Linked DNA regions of Homo sapiens: region 2 is reported to be linked to region 1. Evidence: microRNA targets listed by miRTarBase, many of them from high-throughput screens and not tested one by one. Region 1 holds a microRNA gene; the other region holds the end of a gene's coding sequence.

What was found. Region 1 holds the annotated microRNA hsa-miR-6510-5p (CAGCAGGGGAGAGAGAGGAGUC, at 1,873-1,894, shown strand). A microRNA usually pairs through its seed, bases 2 to 8, with sites in the 3' UTR of a target mRNA and lowers its output. Matches are read on the target gene's strand: a 7mer-m8 pairs with bases 2 to 8, a 7mer-A1 pairs with bases 2 to 7 and ends in A, and an 8mer does both.
Region 2: the mRNA of SH3RF1 is a reported target of hsa-miR-6510-5p. Seed matches in the 3' UTR shown: 8mer at 1,269-1,276.

Annotation. Positions count from the first base shown.
Region 1 is chr17:41,515,021-41,519,087 of GRCh38, reverse strand. It overlaps MIR6510 (microRNA 6510), which reads left to right and starts at 1,871; the gene lies at 1,871-1,924. It overlaps KRT15 (keratin 15), which reads left to right and starts at 198. Exons shown (of 8, transcript NM_002275.4): 1 at 198-758; 2 at 1,923-2,005; 3 at 2,124-2,280; 4 at 2,823-2,984; 5 at 3,078-3,203; 6 at 3,396-3,616. The coding sequence starts at 261. RefSeq lists an enhancer at 1,563-2,447.
Region 2 is chr4:169,093,238-169,097,304 of GRCh38, reverse strand. It overlaps SH3RF1 (SH3 domain containing ring finger 1), which reads left to right. Exons shown (of 12, transcript NM_020870.4): 12 at 618-3,046. The coding sequence ends at 786. Among named protein-coding and RNA genes, the nearest start is that of CBR4-DT, 85 kb to the right of the region's middle.

The DNA.
Region 1 (4,067 bases):
CACTATTAATTCTGAATCATCTCTTTTGTTGCATTAAAAAAAAATAGAAGAGAAAAACTTCACATGACCCACTCAAGGTGTGCAGGCAGCTGTGTTTGTCAGGAAGGCAGAAGGAGTTGGCTTTGCTTTAGGGGAGGAGACGAGGTCCCACAACACCCTCTGAAGGGTATATAAGGAGCCCCAGCGTGCAGCCTGGCCTGGTACCTCCTGCCAGCATCTCTTGGGTTTGCTGAGAACTCACGGGCTCCAGCTACCTGGCCATGACCACCACATTTCTGCAAACTTCTTCCTCCACCTTTGGGGGTGGCTCAACCCGAGGGGGTTCCCTCCTGGCTGGGGGAGGTGGCTTTGGTGGGGGGAGTCTCTCTGGGGGAGGTGGAAGCCGAAGTATCTCAGCTTCTTCTGCTAGGTTTGTCTCTTCAGGGTCAGGAGGAGGATATGGGGGTGGCATGAGGGTCTGTGGCTTTGGTGGAGGGGCTGGTAGTGTTTTCGGTGGAGGCTTTGGAGGGGGCGTTGGTGGGGGTTTTGGTGGTGGCTTTGGTGGTGGCGATGGTGGTCTCCTCTCTGGCAATGAGAAAATTACCATGCAGAACCTCAATGACCGCCTGGCCTCCTACCTGGACAAGGTACGTGCCCTGGAGGAGGCCAATGCTGACCTGGAGGTGAAGATCCATGACTGGTACCAGAAGCAGACCCCAACCAGCCCAGAATGCGACTACAGCCAATACTTCAAGACCATTGAAGAGCTCCGGGACAAGGTGAGTCCTCGGATGTCAAAGAGAGGGGAGCAGGTGGCTGGTACCCTGTACACAGCTCTAATGTCAGTGTTACTGCTGACTCAAGGAAATCCTTTCCTGCCCAGGCAATGACTGTCTGGTATGTAATCTCAGCAAATTTGGAATGCACCTGCTGTCCAGGTGCAGAGGCCAGTGCACATCTTCTCAACTTGGTGGTGCTGGGGGAGGGAGAGAGGGGTCTTGGGAATCTGGTTAGGACCAACAGGGGCACAGGTGGGGGCAATTATAAAGAGCCAGAGGCAGTAGCTCACACCTGTAATCCCAGTGCTTTGGGGGGCCAAGGTGATAGGATTGCTCGTGTCCAGGATTTAGAGGCTGCAGTGAGCTATGACTGTGCCACTGCACTCCGGCCTAGGTGACAGAGTGGAACCTGTATCTAATTAAATAAAAATAATTAAAAAAAAAGAGCAACTCGCCCTCCCTACCTCATGCACCCTGCAGGCTTCTGCATAAAGTATTCCTTTACCTCTTTTGCAAGAATGGGATTGGAGTGTGGCCTCATGAGTTCCAGATGCTAGAACCTCTTGTCTTTTCCTATAAAGAGGTCTTTTGTGCCAAAAGTACTGTTGGGTCTTAGGAGACCTGGGAACTCATTACACATTCTGCCACCCACTCACTCACCATTTTACTCCCTAAGACTGGGTTCCTCATTCGTAAAATGCCTTCTTAACTGCCCTCCAGGTTGCTACTGGCTGGAATGTTCTGTAGATCCATGGCTGTGTCCAAGGTGTGCAGGAGGCAGTGACCATGAGTTGTCCACAGTGGGGCTGGTGGAGTGTCTCTGAGAGAGCTATTGTCAGAGCTGGCTGCACCCCACTGCCCCACTCTCCTGGGCAACCAATTCCCACAGGCAATACTGCCTCCTTGGTCTTTCGTGCCCTGGAGATAAGGAAGGCAGCTCCTCAGGTGTCTCAAGGAGGCTGGATGGGACAAAACAAGAAATGGACACTGAAAGTGAGGCTGGACTTTGCCCACCCCAGAAGCCGTACAGATTTTTGTTGGTGGTGTCAGAGGGGTGATTGTCAGTGAGGGGTGATTTTCAATGAGGGGCTGGCCTTGGGTGCAGAGCAGAGAGCAGCAGGGGAGAGAGAGGAGTCCTCTAGACACCGACTCTGTCTCCTGCAGATCATGGCCACCACCATCGACAACTCCCGGGTCATCCTGGAGATCGACAATGCCAGGCTGGCTGCGGACGACTTCAGGCTCAAGTGCGCTCCCCCGTCTCTCTCCTCTTCCTGCATTGCCCACTTTACTTGGCCTTCTCCTGGCTCTGACTCAGGCAGCCAAGACCCCTCCCACTTCCTTCTTTGGCCTCCCTCTCCTCAGGTATGAGAATGAGCTGGCCCTGCGCCAGGGCGTTGAGGCTGACATCAACGGCTTGCGCCGAGTCCTGGATGAGCTGACCCTGGCCAGGACTGACCTGGAGATGCAGATCGAGGGCCTGAATGAGGAGCTAGCCTACCTGAAGAAGAACCACGAAGAGGTGAGAGCTGGCCCCCATCACCCCTGAACCCGAGAGAGGTGGGGAACCTCTTCCCAAAACTCACTTAAATTGCCCAGAGGGAAAGACAGTGGCTCCAGGAAGCCCTCCCAGATTTTCACGAGATTAAGTCAGTGGGAGGCAGAGTGGGGCTGTTGGTACTTCCTCATAGTTGGCCTGGGGCTTAGTGGTTCAGAAACACACCTACCCCACAAAACCAGGTGTCCTCATGGAGAGGAAGGGGCAGTGTCTGGTAGCCCAGGCCCACAGCCAGCCCAGGTGGCCCGTATGAATGGTTGACTTCCTGATTGGCTTTGTGAGCTCACATCAGGGCCCTACAGTCTCGGGGTCCTCCCTTGGTAGGACCTAGAGCAGCAGAGAACTCCTTAGAGCTGAGGGGTCCATGTGACCAAACCTCTTCATGTGCAATGGGGAACAGCGGTTGGGGTGTGTTACGGGCAGAGCCAGGATTGGCATGTGTGACGCCAGACTCTCAGGTCTCTCTTCTGCTCTCCGTCTCTAAGTGGGTCCCTCCCATCCTGCAGGAGATGAAGGAGTTCAGCAGCCAGCTGGCCGGCCAGGTCAATGTGGAGATGGACGCAGCACCGGGTGTGGACCTGACCCGTGTGCTGGCAGAGATGAGGGAGCAGTACGAGGCCATGGCGGAGAAGAACCGCCGGGATGTCGAGGCCTGGTTCTTCAGCAAGGTGGGCCTTATATCCTGCCCTGCCCTTCCTGCCCCAGGTCCCTGAGTCTCCGAGGAGGCCCCGGGGCTCACTTCTGTTGTGCATGACCTACAGACTGAGGAGCTGAACAAAGAGGTGGCCTCCAACACAGAAATGATCCAGACCAGCAAGACGGAGATCACAGACCTGAGACGCACGATGCAGGAGCTGGAGATCGAGCTGCAGTCCCAGCTCAGCATGGTACGGCCACTCGCGCCCCATCCCAGCCTCTCGGGTGGTAGAAGCTCCCACTCTTCCTGGCTATTTAAGCCTTGGAGTTCTCAAGCCCCCTCAAGAGGTGGTTCCCTGAACTCCATTCAGTGCCCCCTCCCTGCTTGCCCTCAGTGGCTTCCTTTCTAGCCTGATGTGTCTATGCATCTGTCACTCCCCCAGAAAGCTGGGCTGGAGAACTCACTGGCCGAGACAGAGTGCCGCTATGCCACGCAGCTGCAGCAGATCCAGGGGCTCATTGGTGGCCTGGAGGCCCAGCTGAGTGAGCTCCGATGCGAGATGGAGGCTCAGAACCAGGAGTACAAGATGCTGCTTGACATAAAGACACGGCTGGAGCAGGAGATCGCTACTTACCGCAGCCTGCTCGAGGGCCAGGATGCCAAGTAGGCGCCTGGGCACAGGGGAAGGAGTGATGAGGGCTGCTTGTGGCTAGGGTGCAGGGTCATCCTAAGGGAATGGCAGGGTGTCCCTAAGCAGCCTTGAGGGACTGTGAAAAGAGAACTGAGCAAGGAGGGAGGATCTGGACTCCTCACTCTGGTCCTTGGCTGTTACCTGGGACAGGTCACTTCCTCTCTCTGGATCCGTGTTTCTTCTGTAAATGATAGAGGCTGGGCTAGTGGTAGTTAAGATCTAGTGCTCATTCCATTCTCTGCATGAGATAGATGGGTATTCTTGTAGTTCAGAATCTTGACCAGCTCAGTGGCTCATGCCTGTAATCCCAGCACTTTGGGAGTCCAAGGCGGGTGGATCACTTGAGGTCAGGAGTTCGAGACCAGCATGGCCAATATGGTGAAACCCCGTCTCTACTAAAAATACAAAAATTAGCTGGGCGTG
Region 2 (4,067 bases), not on the chromosome of region 1:
CCTTCCCAAGGGATAATCTGGGTATGTGGGGCAGATTACCTTCCTCAGAATTGCTGCCTCGCCCATGTCAAACACCAGTGTAAGGGACGTAGGGACACAGAGACAGACTTCCAGACTCACCTTCCTGACCTCTGTGTGCTTACAACATAGAGGTGGAGCAGAGCCTCCTTAGCCTGTGGGCAGGCGGTTCAGAGAGGACTGAACCCCCCCTGCTCAGCTACTTCTCCCAGTCTCACCAATCAAATAAATTCACTCCTGTTTCCTTGGAGAAGAGGGAGGGATAGAAATGATACCCCTCTCGGGAAATGAAATGAAACTCTCCTTTATGGCCAAGATACAAACACTGGTAGGGAACAAGGATGGCTGTCCTTGTTAAGGTCACTCAGATGAACCAGTCTGGGCCATCAGTAGTGGGTTGACACACATATCCAAATCCAGTCTTTGTTAGTACTAAGTCTCTACTAAACAGAAAATAGCAGTATTTTGAGTTGTTTTACAATCATAAATGAATTAATGTTATTTCCTATTTATGTTGAAGGTTCGTGCAGACTAACAGTACACCATTTTTTAAAATCACTGCTTTGAATCGCCTTAACCAAAATCTCTTTCTTTTCTAGGCACAGGGTGGTGGTTTCCTATCCTCCTCAGAGTGAGGCAGAACTTGAACTTAAAGAAGGAGATATTGTGTTTGTTCATAAAAAACGAGAGGATGGCTGGTTCAAAGGCACATTACAACGTAATGGGAAAACTGGCCTTTTCCCAGGAAGCTTTGTGGAAAACATATGAGGAGACTGACACTGAAGAAGCTTAAAATCACTTCACACAACAAAGTAGCACAAAGCAGTTTAACAGAAAGAGCACATTTGTGGACTTCCAGATGGTCAGGAGATGAGCAAAGGATTGGTATGTGACTCTGATGCCCCAGCACAGTTACCCCAGCGAGCAGAATGAAGAAGATGTTTGTGTGGGTTTTGTTAGTCTGGATTCGGATGTATAAGGTGTGCCTTGTACTGTCTGATTTACTACACAGAGAAACTTTTTTTTTTTTTTAAGATATATGACTAAAATGGACAATTGTTTACAAGGCTTAACTAATTTATTTGCTTTTTTAAACTTGAACTTTTCGTATAATAGATACGTTCTTTGGATTATGATTTTAAGAAATTATTAATTTATGAAATGATAGGTAAGGAGAAGCTGGATTATCTCCTGTTGAGAGCAAGAGATTCGTTTTGACATAGAGTGAATGCATTTTCCCCTCTCCTCCTCCCTGCTACCATTATATTTTGGGGTTATGTTTTGCTTCTTTAAGATAGAAATCCCAGTTCTCTAATTTGGTTTTCTTCTTTGGGAAACCAAACATACAAATGAATCAGTATCAATTAGGGCCTGGGGTAGAGAGACAGAAACTTGAGAGAAGAGAAGTTAGTGATTCCCTCTCTTTCTAGTTTGGTAGGAATCACCCTGAAGACCTAGTCCTCAATTTAATTGTGTGGGTTTTTAATTTTCCTAGAATGAAGTGACTGAAACAATGAGAAAGAATACAGCACAACCCTTGAACAAAATGTATTTAGAAATATATTTAGTTTTATAGCAGAAGCAGCTCAATTGTTTGGTTGGAAAGTAGGGGAAATTGAAGTTGTAGTCACTGTCTGAGAATGGCTATGAAGCGTCATTTCACATTTTACCCCAACTGACCTGCATGCCCAGGACACAAGTAAAACATTTGTGAGATAGTGGTGGTAAGTGATGCACTCGTGTTAAGTCAAAGGCTATAAGAAACACTGTGAAAAGTTCATATTCATCCATTGTGATTCTTTCCCCACGTCTTGCATGTATTACTGGATTCCCACAGTAATATAGACTGTGCATGGTGTGTATATTTCATTGCGATTTCCTGTTAAGATGAGTTTGTACTCAGAATTGACCAATTCAGGAGGTGTAAAAATAAACAGTGTTCTCTTCTCTACCCCAAAGCCACTACTGACCAAGGTCTCTTCAGTGCACTCGCTCCCTCTCTGGCTAAGGCATGCATTAGCCACTACACAAGTCATTAGTGAAAGTGGTCTTTTATGTCCTCCCAGCAGACAGACATCAAGGATGAGTTAACCAGGAGACTACTCCTGTGACTGTGGAGCTCTGGAAGGCTTGGTGGGAGTGAATTTGCCCACACCTTACAATTGTGGCAGGATCCAGAAGAGCCTGTCTTTTTATATCCATTCCTTGATGTCATTGGCCTCTCCCACCGATTTCATTACGGTGCCACGCAGTCATGGATCTGGGTAGTCCGGAAAACAAAAGGAGGGAAGACAGCCTGGTAATGAATAAGATCCTTACCACAGTTTTCTCATGGGAAATACATAATAAACCCTTTCATCTTTTTTTTTTTCCTTTAAGAATTAAAACTGGGAAATAGAAACATGAACTGAAAAGTCTTGCAATGACAAGAGGTTTCATGGTCTTAAAAAGATACTTTATGTGGTTGAAGATGAAATCATTCCTAAATTAACCTTTTTTTTAAAAAAAAACAATGTATATTATGTTCCTGTGTGTTGAATTTAAAAAAAAAATACTTTACTTGGATATTCATGTAATATATAAAGGTTTGGTGAAATGAACTTTAGTTAGGAAAAAGCTGGCATCAGCTTTCATCTGTGTAAGTTGACACCAATGTGTCATAATATTCTTTATTTTGGGAAATTAGTGTATTTTATAAAAATTTTAAAAAGAAAAAAGACTACTACAGGTTAAGATAATTTTTTTACCTGTCTTTTCTCCATATTTTAAGCTATGTGATTGAAGTACCTCTGTTCATAGTTTCCTGGTATAAAGTTGGTTAAAATTTCATCTGTTAATAGATCATTAGGTAATATAATGTATGGGTTTTCTATTGGTTTTTTGCAGACAGTAGAGGGAGATTTTGTAACAAGGGCTTGTTACACAGTGATATGGTAATGATAAAATTGCGATTTATCACTCCTTTTCATGTTAATAATTTGAGGACTGGATAAAAGGTTTCAAGATTAAAATTTGATGTTCAAACCTTTGTATGTCCCTTGTGTCAGTCCTTAAAATTTTGCTTTTTAAAAAAACAAAACAAAACAAAAAACACGGGACACATTTGACCTAATTTGTACCTCACAAAAATTCTTTGCATACATCTCAAGCGGAAGATGTCTACAGGAATCAATTTGGTGATTATGACACATTTTACCTCTGCAACTAACAAACCTTGTTTATTTCTCCAAGAAGCTTAAAAAGAGTTTGTGGAGTCGCACGAGGTCATGTATGGCACTTGTGTTCCCCTCTTCCTCTTCCAGTTACTAAAATAATCTGGTGAGTGCTAGTTGTCTTAGCCATAGAAGGAAAAGCAGACCTATCAACCAATAGTATGATAACCCGTAAGTCTCAGCATGGCTTGGGGACAAAATCTTTAGATTCACCATGGTTTTAATTTCCCATGAAATGAAAGGCCCATGTAAGTCATGTTAAAAACTATTTTCTTATTAACTTTTGGCTACTGTCAAATGACTTATCAGAATTGAAAATCAGGAATTCTAGGTTGTATTGTAGCTTTTCCAAAAACTATCTCTGTAGCCACCTGGGCAAGTTGATTATTACTTAGTTTCCTCCTTTTGGTGTCCCATCTACCCCACTGGGTGAGGATGAGGAGCAAAGGAGATAATCTCACTGTTTTTGAAAAGTGCTATTTTAATGTGTGGCATTAAGTTTATCTCTGGTTTCAAATATTCATCTCACTCTCTTGGAGTATATGATATAATGCTTTTCAGGGTCTGATTGGTTTTAGAAGGAACAAATTAAGGTGATGTTTCCAACTGCTATGCATTTAACTTTCTGTTCCTATAATAGAACATATTTGCATACCTCCAGAAGAACATTCAATTCTCTGAATATTTCAATCCAGAGCTATAAACAACATTAGAATTCGGCTTTGGAAATTGTGTTTAATAGATGTTTGACTAAGTTTAATAGATGTTTGACTAAGTTTAATAGATGTTTGACTAACAACTCTTTGTGTGTATTCATCAAATTTTTAAAAATGTGTT